Homo sapiens: one gene and its partners. The protein of the gene in region 4 purifies or fractionates together with the protein of the main gene of each other region. This does not show direct contact. Each region holds a gene or a part of one and is shown on either strand. Other genes may lie near its edges.

What was found. Proteins that work in one complex are often made in the same cells at the same time.
Region 1: the proteins of LRP12 (region 4) and KCNE3 purify together in Homo sapiens (co-immunoprecipitation; one large-scale study listed by IntAct). This does not show direct contact.
Region 2: the proteins of LRP12 (region 4) and ZDHHC9 purify together in Homo sapiens (co-immunoprecipitation; one large-scale study listed by IntAct). This does not show direct contact.
Region 3: the proteins of LRP12 (region 4) and ZDHHC11 purify together in Homo sapiens (co-immunoprecipitation; one large-scale study listed by IntAct). This does not show direct contact.

Annotation. Positions count from the first base shown.
Region 1 is NC_000011.10:74,457,550-74,461,049, reverse strand, and holds part of KCNE3 (potassium voltage-gated channel subfamily E member 3), read left to right. Parts: intron 1-3,446; coding exon of another isoform or gene 3,447-3,486; coding exon 3,487-3,500. UniProt on the Homo sapiens protein: Ancillary protein that functions as a regulatory subunit of the voltage-gated potassium (Kv) channel complex composed of pore-forming and potassium-conducting alpha subunits and of regulatory beta subunits.
Region 2 is NC_000023.11:129,809,387-129,812,886, reverse strand, and holds part of ZDHHC9 (palmitoyltransferase ZDHHC9), read left to right. Parts: exon of another isoform or gene 1-66; coding exon 67-169; intron 170-1,377; coding exon 1,378-1,481; intron 1,482-1,885; coding exon 1,886-1,982; intron 1,983-3,500. UniProt on the Homo sapiens protein: Palmitoyltransferase that catalyzes the addition of palmitate onto various protein substrates, such as ADRB2, GSDMD, HRAS, NRAS and CGAS. The ZDHHC9-GOLGA7 complex is a palmitoyltransferase specific for HRAS and NRAS.
Region 3 is NC_000005.10:795,105-798,986, reverse strand, and holds the end of ZDHHC11 (palmitoyltransferase ZDHHC11), read left to right. Parts: intron 1-2,406; 3' UTR 2,407-3,382; downstream 3,383-3,882. UniProt on the Homo sapiens protein: Endoplasmic reticulum-localized palmitoyltransferase that could catalyze the addition of palmitate onto various protein substrates and be involved in a variety of cellular processes.
Region 4 is NC_000008.11:104,495,259-104,498,758, forward strand, and holds part of LRP12 (low-density lipoprotein receptor-related protein 12 isoform a precursor), read right to left. Parts: intron 2,819-3,500; coding exon 1,714-2,818; intron 1-1,713. UniProt on the Homo sapiens protein: Probable receptor, which may be involved in the internalization of lipophilic molecules and/or signal transduction. May act as a tumor suppressor.

The sequences.
Region 1 (3,500 bases), on a different chromosome or scaffold from region 4:
TGTCTACCTATGAAATTGCCTGAGGCCCCTTCCTCCTTCAACCCTCACTTAGCCATTTCCTCCTCAGGTCTTACGACTGTCTCTACCCCCACTTCCCTACTTTGTTATCCTCTCTGCCCCAATTCATGACTCAGCATCTTACACTAAACTATTTCAAGACTCTGGTAGCTGGGCTCACTGCCTCAATTCCAGCTCCCTCCAGTCCACATGACAGCCAGAGTATCCTTTCCAGGCACAGATCTGACCATTTTATCTTCTTTTAAGATACCATTCCATGGCTTTTCCCTAGCTACAGAATAAAGTTCCAACTCTACAGCGTGGCACTCAAGGCCCCCCATGATCTGGATCCTCTCTCTCCTGCCCCACATCCTACACTATTCTTCCACACATCTTACACTCCAACCTCTTTATGCTACTTTCCATTCTTCTAAACATTTACACACTTTCTTGTTCTGCCTTTGCTCATGTTTCCTTCATCTTTTCTGCCTCTTAAAAACCCTTCAAGGTCCAACTCAAATGCCTCCATCACTGTGGACACTCTCTGAGCCCTGATCAGTATCCATCACTTATTCCTTTCAGCCTTAGTAGCTCTTTGCTTGTCCCCTGCATTGTATCAGAGCCCCTGGGCGAAGGCACTGGATCTGAGCCACCCCGAACTCCCATCACAGGGTGTGGCCCATATTGGTGATAACTATCTAGATTATTTTTTGAGTTATTTATTTCATCATGCTGCTCCTACTTGCTATTGGCCCACACGAGGGAAGCAGCAGCCACAGAGTTCTTGCCTGACACATGGGGTAGTAGATGAGAACGTGTATCTCCTGGATCTTAACTCAGTGAGCTCTTGTTCTTTTCCCCTCCTCCATCCAGACAAGGCAGCACAAGTACTAGATGTCAGAAGGCCCCAAAGGCCTTGCATGAAATGCTGCCCAGTCCTGGCTGATTGTGTTCATAGAGCCATTGATGAATATTTTTCATAGTCAGAATGATCATCTTTTCCAGGGAAGAGATCTTATGGTTAATAGTCACATATTAGTTTGTTAACAGTTCTACCCATATGATGGAGGACTGAATGCTTGGCCCATAGAGAATTCCTTAAAGTGAACATCTCTACTAGAAACTATTGAGAGAAGGAGAGCACCCAGCCAATCTAGAAAAAGGGAATACCCAGCCAGTCTCAAGGTAGTGCCCTGGGAAAGGAGAACACCCAGTCTCAGGGTAGTCCTCCAGACTGGGGTAAGAGACATAGCCCTGCTGACCAGACGCATGTGGTCTGATGATATCCTTATCAAAAACAAGAGGACAGCCACATATTGCCTTATATGTAAGTGCTGGGGGGAAGGGAAGGCTGTGATGATAAAGGCAGTGTAGTGTGGCTGAGAGGTGGGGAGCACTGAATGGAGGCTTCCTAAAGGAAGTGAGTGTGGGGCCTTGTTTATAGGGAATTACATATGGTTTTTCAGAGACAAGGATGCAAGTCTGTTTTAAGATGTTCTTTCTGGCTGGGCGCCTGTAATCCCAGCACTTTGGGAGGCCGAGGTGGGCGAATCACAAAGTCAGGAGATCGAGACCATCCTGGCTAACATGGTGAAACCCTGTCTCTACTAAAAATACAAAAAAATTAGCCTGGCGTGATGGCGGGCGCCTGTAGTCCCAGCTACTGGGGAGGCTGAGGCAGGAGAATGGCGTGAACCCAGGAGGCGGAACTTGCAGTGAGCCGAGATTGCGCCACTGCACTGCAGCCTGGGCGACAGAGTGAGACTCCGTCTCAAAAAAAAAAAAAAAAAAAATGTTTTCTATATTATAGACTAAGGATCTCTGAGAAGAAGGGAAAGGAACATTTATAATCACTTACTATATGCCAGGTACATAATGACTTTATTTCAGGAGACAAGATAGTTGGCGTGCTTGTGTCTTCTTTTTGTGGGCAGGTAAACCCCAAGCCAGACTGAGAACTCCTTTCACTCTCCCGCCCTCAGGCCCAAGCTGCTGTTCTCTTCTCCAGTGCCTGCAGTGGTTACCAACCTGTTCCCGTTTCCCTGACCACCTCTTTCCAACAGAATTTCTACAAATAGCTAGGAATATCTAGTCTTTGGGACACAGGATGCTTGAGAGGGCAAATGATCCAGCTTCTGGCCTCCAGGCAGGATGAAATTTAAACCATCCCCAGGTGTCTTCCAAAAGGTGTCCGTGGAGTCTTTTTTTTTTTTTCTTTTGAGACAAAGTCACGCTCTGTGGCCCAGGCTGGAGTGCAGTGGCTCTATCTTGGCTCACTGCAACCTCCACCTTCTGAGTCCAAGTGATTCTCCTGCCTCAGCCTCCCAAGTAGCTGGGATTACCAAGCGCTCACCACCACGCCCAGCTAATTTTTGTATTTTTAGTAGAGACGGGTTTCACCACATTTGCCAGGCTGGTCTCCAACTCCTGATCTCAAGTGATCCCACCCGCCTCAGCCTCCCAAAGTGCTGGGATTACAGGCGTGAGCCACTGTGCCCAACCTGTCTGTGCAGTCTAAAGAGAACTGTGCTCAAGGAGAGTTGTGATGAATGTCTTCTAATGGTGCTGCACAGTCCTGCTGAGAGCTAGCATGGAAGTGGAAGCAGCTCTAAGCTAGCCACAAAGAGCAGGGCTTTCTGTCTTGGCTCTACTTCCAATATTCTGTGATCATGGACAAGCCACTTATTCTCTCAAGGCCTCAGTTTCCCTGTGTATAAAATGGCAAGAGTTATATTAAATAATCCTTAAGTTCCTTCTAATCTAAAGTTCAGTGATTTATAGAAACCAAAGAAAGGAGAGATTAATATGGGTTCTGATGGTCAGGGAAGGCTTTGTTGTACAATTATTTATTGAGTACTTACTTATTGAATGCTGTCATAAGTGATTGCATATAGCAGTGAGTAAAACAAATATAGGCCCTGCCCTTATTGTTTAGTGTATGGTCTAATGGAGAAGACAAACATGTAATCAAGCAGCTAGAATAAGCTATTGTATTAGTCCATTTTCATACTGCCATGAAGAAATACCTGAGCCTGGGTAGTTTATAAAGAAAAAGAAGTTTAATGGACTCACAGTTCCACACGGCTGGGTAGGCCTCACAATCACGGCAGAAGGCAAAGGAGGAGCAAAGGCACATCTTAAACAGTGGCAGGCAAGAGAGCAGGTGCAGGGGAACTGCCCTTTCTAAACCATCAGATCTCGTGAGACTTATTCACTATCATGAGAACAGCATGGGAAAAACCCACCCCCATGATTCAGTTACCTCCTACTGGGTCCCTCCCATGACACATGGGGATTATGGGAGCTATGATTCCAGATGAGATTTGGGTGGGGACACAGCCAAACCATATCAGCCATGATGCTAAGATTTTACCTGGGATCTGAAGGGAGGAGGTCATTTGAGCTGCAGGTGACAGAGCCATCCCCTCTCTCTTTTCTTTTGCCACCAGAGCTTCTACCGAGTCTTCCCCCACCTCAATCCCTGTTGCTATGGAGACTACCAA
Region 2 (3,500 bases), on a different chromosome or scaffold from region 4:
GAATATGGGCGGAGGCATCAAGTCTCCTGATGTTGAGTTCTTCAATACTCCTTAACCACACCTCACTGTTCTAGAAGTCCTCATTTGCTTCTTTACACTCTGGTCCGTCGTGGGACTGACTGGATTTCATACTTTCCTCGTGGCTCTCAACCAGACAACCAATGAAGACGTGAGTCAACTTTCTCTTCTCCTCACCACATATTCTTCTTCCCAAAGCCTATCCTCTTGCTACCTGCTAGAGAACTACCGAGTCTCCAGGGCCTGGGAGGTTGAGGCAGGCAGAAACGTGGTATGCGAGGTTGTTAAGTCAGATGTGTGGAAGAGAAAGGAGAGGGCTTTGTTGAATGCTTGTGGAGCATTAGGAAGAAGAGGTTGAAAAGTTGGGTGGGTATACAGCCTTTAACTGTTCACAGGTCCTTAAAGGCTAGCTGGTGCCTCTGTTTGGCATGGAGAGGGACAGTTGCACTGGATGAATCCTTGCTATATAAAAAGTTACCAATTAGGCTGGGTGTGGTGGCTCACGCCTGTAATCCCAGCACTTTGGGAGGCTGAGGCGGGCGGATCACCTGAAGTCAAGAGTTCAAGACCAGCCTGGCCAACATGGCAAAACCCTGTCTCTACTAAAAATACAAAAATATAGCCGGATGTGTTAGTGTGCACCTGTAGTCCCAGCTACTCGGGAGGCTGAGGCAGGAGAATCACTTGAACCCGGGAGGTGGAGGTTGCAGCGAGCAAAGATCACGCCACTGCACTCCAGCCTGGACAACAGAATGAGACTCTGTCTGGAAAAAAAAAAAAAAAGTTAGCAATTAATCTACATTCACTGTAGAAAATCAGAAAATACAGATGAGCAAAAAGAAAAAAGTAAGTTCCTCTTACTTTACTTCTTAGACATCACCTTTGTTAGTAGTATGATTTATATATTCTAGACTTGTCTAGACTTTTTTCCATGTTTATTTATGTGTTTATATTATGTACTTTTAAATAAAAATAGTATATATCATTCAGTTATCTGCTTTTTTCACTCTATTGTGAGTATTTTTCATGGCTGTGTATGTATTTCTTTTTTGTTGTGATAAAATATACATGATATAAAGTGTGCTATATTAAATGTCTTTCAACCCTGGCGATCAATGGGGTGACAGTTGTTGCAGCCAGATCGCCCTCATATCCTAAATGTACAGTTCAGTGGCATCACATTGTTGTGCAACCATTGCCACCATCCATTTCCAGAACTTTTTTATTATCCCATGCTGCATGTGTTTCTTCAACATTATTATTATTATTTTTCTTTTTTGTGTCTGTTTTTAATTTTATTATTATTATTTGTTCATTTTAACATTATTTTTAATGTCAGCCTTGGTTTTTATCTTGCAGATCAAAGGATCATGGACAGGGAAGAATCGCGTCCAGAATCCCTACAGCCATGGCAATATTGTGAAGAACTGCTGTGAAGTGCTGTGTGGCCCCTTGCCCCCCAGGTGCTCAGGGCACTCAAAAGTCCTGGGACTGTTGGGATGAGCAGCTCAACCTGATCCTGTTACCTTGTCTGATGTGTTTTTCTGAGTGTGGCCTCTTGGTGTCAAATAGGTCTTTCCAGGGCTTGCCACTTGGTACCATGTCTACATGGACCATAGACCATGGGCTGGTTGTTTTGGAGGGATGATCTTTCATTCTTAATTTCATTTGTTTGTTCCCTGGTTAATGTGACATTTCCTGGTTTGTGGAAGAAAAAGTGAATGGGAGATAAGAGGCATGTGCTGTGTTCAGGCTAGATTGCCAAAGGACAGGTTTATATTTTCCAGTCTATGCAGCAAAATTCCGTAGGCCAGGTGGGTGGAGGGGTGAATGCCCAGTTCTTTGTTAACTCTCTTATCTCCTTCAGTGTGCTGGATCGAAGGGGTATTTTGCCACTGGAGGAAAGTGGAAGTCGACCTCCCAGTACTCAAGAGACCAGTAGCAGCCTCTTGCCACAGAGCCCAGTAAGTGTTCCTGACTTAAGGCTGGGTCGATATAGAGAGGGCGGAGGCTAATTTACAGCTTGGAAATATAATTAGGCAATATTGTATTCTAATCACCCCAGCTTCCCTGCCTCTACACCTGCCCTGATGTTGCCTTCAGATCTTTGTGTCCTTGATGTAGATTAAGATTTAGTCATTTCTTTGGTGTATATTGAGTGACTCTGTGCCAGCCACTGTACTAGCTGCCAGGGTTATACCAATGAATGAGGCAAACGATGTCCCTGCTCTCAAGGAGCTCATTGTCTAGTGGGGGCAAGAAACAAGTAAACAGGCCATTGCTCAACATTGTGAAAAGTGCCTTGATGAGGAAAGCATAAAATGCTATAGGGGCAAAGACAGAGGTCAGGGGATTGTATTAGAGTTAGTGATGTGGTTACTGTGGTAGAAGGGGGCTTCCTAACTGGAATATGCAAAAGTTGTGGAAACTCTCCCAGCTGTCCTATTTAAGATATATAAAGTATATCTTTAAAGTATATAAAGTACTTTCCTAAAAAAAAATATTACTTGAGCTTTTTTTTTTGAGATGGAGTTTTGCTCTGTCACCCAGGCTGGAGTGCAGTGGTGTGATCTCGGCTCATTGCAACTCCACCTCCCAGGTTCAAGCAATTCTCTGCCTCAGCCTCCGAGTAGCTGGGATTACAGGCGCCCGCCACCATGCCTGGCTAATTTTTGTATTTTCACTAGAGACAGGGTTTCACCATCCTGGCCAGGATGGTCTGCATCTCCTGACCTCGTGATCCTCCCGCCTCAGCCTCCCAAAGTGTTGGGATTACAGGCGTGAGCCACCGTGCCCAGCTGAGCTTTCTTTTTTTAATAAGAACTTTATTGAGATATGATTCACATACCATAGGTCCCAATTTTTTTTTTTTTTTTTTTTGAGACGGAGTCTCGCTCTGTCACCCAGGCTGGAGTGCGGTGGTGCAATCTCAGCTCACTGCAACCTCCGCCTCCCGGGTTCTCCTGCCTCAGCCTCCTGAGTAGCTGGGATTACAGGCATGTGCCACCACGCCCAGCTAATTTTGTATTTTTTAGTAGAGACGGGGTTTCTCCATGTTGGTCAGGCTGGTCTCGAACTTCTGACCTCAGATGATCTGCCCACCTCAGCCTCCCAAAGTAGAGGATTACAGGCGTGAGCCACTGCGCCCAACTGATCCCTATTTAAAATGTATGATTCACTGGTCTAGAATATTCACAGAGTTGTACAATCATTATAACAATCAATTTTAGAGCATTTTCGTTACCCTTCCACCCTAAGAAACCCTGTAGCCATTAGCAGTCACTCTCCCTTTCCCCTGAACTTCCCCAGCCACACCCCTAGGCAACCACTAATCTACTTCCTTTTAGTACAGATTTCTCTCTTCTGGGTATTTCATGTAAATGAAATCATACAATATGTGGTCTTTTGTGACTGGCTTCTTTTACTTAGCATGTTTTCGAGGTTTGTCCATGTTGTACTATGTAGCAGTACTTCGTTCCTTT
Region 3 (3,882 bases), on a different chromosome or scaffold from region 4:
GTGTGTTTTATAGAAGCCCAAACTCAGCCAACCACAGCTTGTCTGCTGAAGTTGCAGATAATTTCAGGTCACATTCTTTATCATTTGCATGCTCTTTATCATTTGCATTATTTTTGAATGAGTCTAAATCATTTCAAAAGCATCTGGTCTTCCTAGGGTGCTTTCGAAATGAATTAGCCTCATTCAAAAAAAAAAATATTCACCACTAAGGTTTTAAACAGCAAATGTTCGCTGTGATAACGTCTTAGAGTTGTGAATTACTGTAGACCACACAAAACACTTCTTCAGTATTACACCTTACCCCTCCAAAGTGCCTGTGGTGTAGGAGTCAGTCACTCCTATCTCTAGAAAAGGATGGTGGCTAGGAGAGTTGTCTGATTTTTACATAATCCCAGAAAGTACTTAAGGTAGATTTTAAAGATCGTGGAATACAGACCGATGGCATAAAGGGAAAAGGGAGGGGAAAGAAAGAAGGAGTGAAATGAAGCCAGAGGTTCTAGTCATGTGGCAAGTCACTTACAAGGATCGGACAATGCTCCGAAACTGAGCAAGTTAAGGGTGTGTGTGTGCACGCGTGCGCGTGTCCGTGTCCATGTGAGTGCGAGTGTAAATATTCTTAAAGGCATTAATGAACTGAGGAGACATAAGGAATTCTCAGGCCATGGTTGAAGGCACAGAGGAACCCAAAGAGAAATCTAGTGGGGAGTGCAGCTGGCCTTTGCCCTGAGGGCATTTGTGAAACCTGGTCAACTTCATTTTCACCTTTTCAAGAGATACAAATGGAAGATCAAGCTGAGAGCACAGCCAAAATGGCAAGCCAATCAGTAATCTCTTAAAGTAAGGGCCCCCAGAGGGCGGTACCCTCATTGCAGTGGCAAACTAGAGGCAACTCACTTCTCTACCCGCAAAGGAATCAGGGGGGATCAGTCATTTCAAGCCCTAGAGCTGAAAGAAAAAGAGAAAAATCACTGCCGAGTATTTGGAGCAACAGGTTCTCCCTAAATTTGTGTGAGGTGGGTGACCAAAAGTCCCCAAGCTGAGAATTTAATAGAGAGTGATTCTGAACTGGTCATTCCCAGGAGCCAAGCATAATTCCTTCTGAGTAACAAACCTTCATCCTAAGCCTCAAAGATTTCTCAAAAATAAAACTACAAAGCAAAGAAGCAATTCTCAATGAAAAACAACCCACCACATGTGAAAATAAAGCACTGAGTGAGAAGCAGCAGAAAACGTAGTAGAAACAGACACATAAATATTTCAGATGTTGAATTTGGCAGACCAAAACATGAAGAAAACACAAAGTCAGAAATATCTGAAGAGAACAGAAAACTATTTTTTAAATTACAAAGCAGATATGGAAAAACACCAAATAAAACTTATGAGAAATATCACTGATTTTTTTTAAAGTGGATGGATTTAACAACAAATTAGACAGTTGAAAAGTGAATTAGGGAACTAGAATCTAGAGCTGAAGAAATTACTGAAATAGATACAAAGTGACAGAAACGCAAAATGTGAAAAAAATGAATGAGAATACAGTTTGAAGGCTATGTTATGTTTAGAGTCCTAGAAAGAGAAAAGAGAGAAAATTGGGAAGATGTCATATTTAAGGAGATTTGGCTGAGAATTTGCCAACATTGTTAGAAGACACCAACTCACAGATTCATAAAGCCCAGTGAATCCAAGAAGGGGAAATAAAATTCTAGACACAACATAATTCAATTGATAAATGCCGTAAACAAAGAATATATATATATATACACACACACACATATGTATTTAGACAGAGTCTCGCTGTGTCACCCAGGCTGGAGTGCAGTGGCCCAATCTTGGCTCACTGCAAACTCCGCCTCCCGGGTTCACAACATTCTCCTGCCTCAGCTTCCTGAGTAGCTGGGCCTACAGTTGCCCACCACCACACCCAGCTAATTTTTTGTATTTTTAGTAGAGACGGGGGTTCACTGTATTAGCCAGGAAGGTCTCGATCTCCTGACCTCATGATCCACCCGCCTCGGACTCCCAAAGTGCTGGGATTACAGGTGTGAGCCACCACACCTGGCCAAAGAAAATATTTTTTAAAATATCTAGTGATAAAAGATGGGTTATCTTTCAAAAGGATGTATTTCCGAAGAAGAACAATAGAAAATGGCCTCTGTCGGTGATGCACTCATCTCTAAGCTTTCTGGAAGGATGGGGAGGGCAGGAGCCTGGCTCGGGAGGACTCTCACTAGACCCAGCTGGGAGTGGGGCTCTGTGTCTAAGCCAAGGTGATGATCCACCCAGAAACCAGCCCTGCCTCTCCAGGCAACAGGTTGGGGTAAAAGCCACCGGTGGGTTTCCATCACAAGTAGAGCTGAGCTTCCTCCCTGGTGGCTGCTCAAAGAGTGACTTTGTTTTGTCCTGCAGGAGCTCAGGTGCCCCTGTGATCCAGGTCTTCTACCCTGAAACCCCACCCTCCATCAAGGTCCTGCCTGTAGAGTCTACCTTGCAAAGCCTCCTGCTCCTACCCATGCTACAGGCCAGGAACCAGAGCCCATCATCTCAGAGGCCCCTGGATGTCCTTCGAAGGAACCAGGACCCTCAGAGCCCAGCATCCATCTCTGTCATCATCTTCATCACACCCAAAGAAGAGCCAGCCTTGCAGGAGGGTTTACATCTCCAGGAAGATGGGCTGCCAGCAACTGCAGAGGATGCAGCCACCTGCTTAACTGTGCTGTCCAGCCAGCCAGCCAGCTGCAGGGCCTCTTGCTGCTTAAGAGCTGATGGGCCGGGCATGTTGGCTCACACCTGTGAGCACAGTACTGGGAAATGGGAGCACAGTACTAGGAAATGGGAGCACAGTACTGGGAAATGGGAGCACAGTACTGGGAAATGGGGGCTCACAGCACTGCAAAATGGGAGCACAGTATTGGGAAATGGGAGCACAGTACTGGGAAGTGGGAGCACAGTACTGAGAAGTGGGAGCACAGTACTGAGAAATGGGAGTACACTACTGAGAAATGGGAGCACAGTACTGGGAAATGGGCATACAGTACTGAGAAATGGGAGCACACAGTACTGGGAAATGGGAGCACAGTACTGGGAAATGGGAGCCCACAGTACTGGGAAAGGGGAGTTCACAGTACTCGGAAATGGGAGCATAGTACTGGGAAATGGGAGCACAGTACTGGGAAATGGGAGCATAGTACTGGGAAACCCCAGACCTGGATTCTGAGTTTTTCAGCCTAGCCCAGACTTCTTATCTTAGTAGACAAAAAGAGTCAATACCAGAGAACCAGAGGCATCCTCTGTATTTTAATGAACTCTGCATTTTAATCTGTTTAGTAGTCATTTTTTAAAAGATAATCAGTTTTCCAAATATATCTATAAGTTACTACGTGCATTGGGCTGTTTTTGTGTTTCTGTAAAGAAATACCTGAGGCTGGGTAATTTATTTAAAAACAGGTTAAACTGGCTCACAGTTGTGCAGGCTGTACAGGAAGCATGGTGCTGGCATCTGCTTGGCTTCTGGTGAGTCCTCAGGAAGCTTCCGTCATGGCTGAAGGTGGGGTGAGAGCCAACACATCATGTAGTAAGAGCAGGAGCAAGAGAGAGTGGTGGGGTTGAGGGAGCACCATGCATTTTTAAATGACCAGATCTCAAGTGAACTACCAGAGCAAGGACTCACTCATCACCAAGGGGATGGCACTAAACTATTTATGAGGAACCTGCTCCCATGATTCAAACACCTCCCACCAGGCCCCACCTCCAACACTGGGGATTACATCTCAACATGGGATTTGGAGGGGACAAACCTCCAAGCTTTATCATTCCATCCCTGGTCCCTCAAATCTCATGTCCAGCTCGCCTTGCAACATATAATCATCCCTTCTCAATAGTCCC
Region 4 (3,500 bases):
AAGAACAATTTTCTATTATCAGTAATTAAAACAATCTGAGTCTTGGCATATTTGATCATTTTAAAGCTTAGTCATTTGACAAACATTTACTGAATATATGTATTATCCCTACAGTGGGAATACAAAGCTGACGCAGGCAGTCTGTCTTCATAGGGCTTTATGCTAGTAGAAGCCTAGATCACTGAGTTTTAATAAATGAAAATCCCTGTAAAAGGTAAAGGGAGAAATAATACAAGATTTAAAAACTCCTAAGAATACTGTATTTACTGAATATACGTTGAAGCCACTGCGCCCAGCTGGGATCTTTGACTCTTCATTGTGCTCTTTTGTTGCAATGTGGTAAAAAGTTTTCTGGCCATTTACACTTGGCCAAAGATGCAGTGGTCGGGCGCCGTGGCTCACACCTGTAATCCCAGCAGTTTGGGAGGCCAAGGCGGGTGGATCACGAGGTCAGTAGTCTGGGACCAGCCTGGCCAACAGAGTGAAACCCTGTCTCTACTAAAAATACAAAAAATTAGCCAGGCGTGGTGGCGGGCGCCTGTAATCACAGCTACTTGGGAGGCTGAGGCAGGAGAATCGCTTGAACCTGGGAGACGGAGTGCAGTGAGCTGAGATCGCACCAGTGCACTCCAGCCCGGGTGACAGAGCAAGACTCCCGTCTCCAAACAAACAACAAAAAAAAAAAAAAGGAAAAAAAAGAAAAGATGCAGTAATGGTTATTACGATACTGTGCATCTGTGTGCCACCTATTAGCCATCTGTTACGTAAAAAGTTGTTAAATCTATTATTTGTAATTCTCCTGGGACTGAAGGTCATTGTCTCCACAGGGACATCTCTGCCATTAACTTCTGCCAGGTCCCATTTATCCTGCATCAAACTGAAAACTACTCACTCTGAAGGTCACTCTTTAACAGTTAACCATTTCTTACTGAACTGAGAACTCTGAAGTGCTGTTGTCACTTAACTCTACAACAGGACATTAGTCTTGTGTTCCAATCGTATCTCCTGTTAGCCCTTCATACGCATCCTGGGCTCCAGATAAACTGAATCATGTGCTTACTTTTTGAGCAATGCTGGACATTCCTACTTCTATATATTTTCCTAGGTTATTGCTTTAACAACACCTTTTCCCCTATCTATATTCTTCTACTCATACATTTCAAGTGGCACCCCTCCAATTAAAGCCTTTCTGCCTCTCTCCCTCATTAGATTACGTATTTTTGACTTTATACCATTTTGTTTCATAGCTCTTTATAGTATTATACTTTTGTCATCTTATTCCATGCCCCAATTCCTTCCTCCTAACTGTAAACTGCTTGTGATATTATGCCTTATTCATTTTTCTATTTACCTGTATGCTTTGAACATAGCATATAGAATAACTGGAATTTTTGAATTTGTATTTAGAAAAATACAGGTTAAAACACTAAAACTGAGAGCTGCAGCTTACAATATTCCTATAAAACAGATTAATCTGAAAACAGGAGCTGGTAAATAGATGGGCTTTTTCTCATAACTCTAAATATTTAGTTTGTAATGTGTCTGGCCTTCTGAGTCTCGGGTTTTTCACGCTAATTTTATACATCATCAACAATCTTTATCCATTTTCTAAACTAATATAAAACAAAAATACATTGCTAATCATCAAAGAACTTGTTTCAAACACTTGGGCCTGCTTTTATTGAGGCCCAATAGTTCTGTCTTGATACTGACCTTCTTTCAAACATTCTCAGAGAATAAAGCTTACAAGTACATCCCAATGCTATGACGAGTAACAGGCCACAGATGAGGCTCCCTATGACGGCAGCAGTGATGACTCTTGTAGGCACGATTACTGGGCAATTTTCTTCATCGCTGCCATCACCACAGTCATCTTGAGAATCACACACCCAACTTTCAAACACACAACGATTGTTTTTACAATGGAAATTTCCTGGTTGGCAAAAAAAGCAGTTTTTTTCATCTGAGCCATTTGGGCAATGATTCTGGTAGTTGCAGCGATCAGAACGAGGATAACAGACACCATTTCGGGAACATGGAAATTCTTCCTTCTGGCACATGGTACAATTGGTTTCATCCCTTCCATTTGGGCAATGCCAATACCCATCACAACGCTGCTGCTCAGTATAACACCCCCAGTTACCTCCACAGGGTATTTCCCATGGCAAACAGAACCCATCTACTTGGTAAGTAGCATTAAATCCCCTTGCAGCATTCACTTTATCAGCACAAAAATGTACCCTTATCTGTCCAGAAGAAGAAACAACTGTAAGAGGTGCATGAGAATCAAAAGCTGTCAACACACGCAAAAGCTTGTGTGGATTCTCCTCTAATCCATCATATATTTTGACATAATCACCATAACCAGTACCATCAAGTTTAAAGTCAGTGAAGCGTAAAATGACTTTACGGTGATCACCAGTGTCTATTAACCAGGTGCAATTGCTTCCAGGAGGATAAAAGTCTGGATAATTGGGAGAATTAAAAGTACCATAAAAATATTTTAGCCATTGCCCACATGTTGGCACATCACAGTCTATCTCATCTCCTAGGTCAAGGCAGTCAATGTTCCCATCACATTTTAAAGATTCGGGGAGGCAAGTGTAAACTTTGGTAAAACGGGATAAACACTGGAACTGGTTGTAAGCACAGGGTTGAAAAGCAGCAGCAGTTGGAGGATTTGCTTCTTTGGCACAGATCTCTTCATCGGAACTATCTCCACATTCATCCATGTTATTACATTTCCAGGCTTCTGGTATACACTTTCCATTACCACAACGAAACTGATCACAAGCACAATTTGGTTCCTCAGATTTCCCTGTGAAGATGTGAGTAGAAATAGATGGAAAGAGAAGGAGAAAAATTATAATCTTTAAAAGACATAAAACAGCAAGTGATATTTTTATAATAAATGTTCATAAAGCCCAAGTGCTAGAAGTTTTAAAAAACAGGTTGGTTTTTTAATATTTTAATTTTAAGTTCCAGGGTACATGTGCAGGATGTGCAGGTTTGTTACATGAGTAAACATGTGCCATGGTGGTTTGCTGCACCCATCAATCCATCACCTAGGTATTAAGTCCAGTATGCATTAGGTCTTTTCCCTAATGCTCTCCCTCCCACCCCACCCTCCCTAGAAAGGCCACAATAAATCTGGGGCCTGTGTCCATGTGTTCTCATTGTTCAGGTCCCACTTATAAGTGAGAACATGCAGTGTTTGGTTTTCTGTTCCTGTGTTATTTTGCTGAGGATAATGGCTTCCAGCTTCATCCATCCATCCAGCTTCCAGCAAAGGACATGATCTCGCTCCTTTTTATGGCTGCATAGTATTCCATGGTGTATATGTACCAACATTTTCTTTACCCAGTCTATCATTGATGGGCATTTGGTTTGATTCCATCTCTTTGCTATTGAGAATAGTGCTGCAATCAACGTATGTGTGTATGTATCTTTATAAATGGAATGATTTAACAGGTTGGGTTCTAATGACAAATTAGTACTGG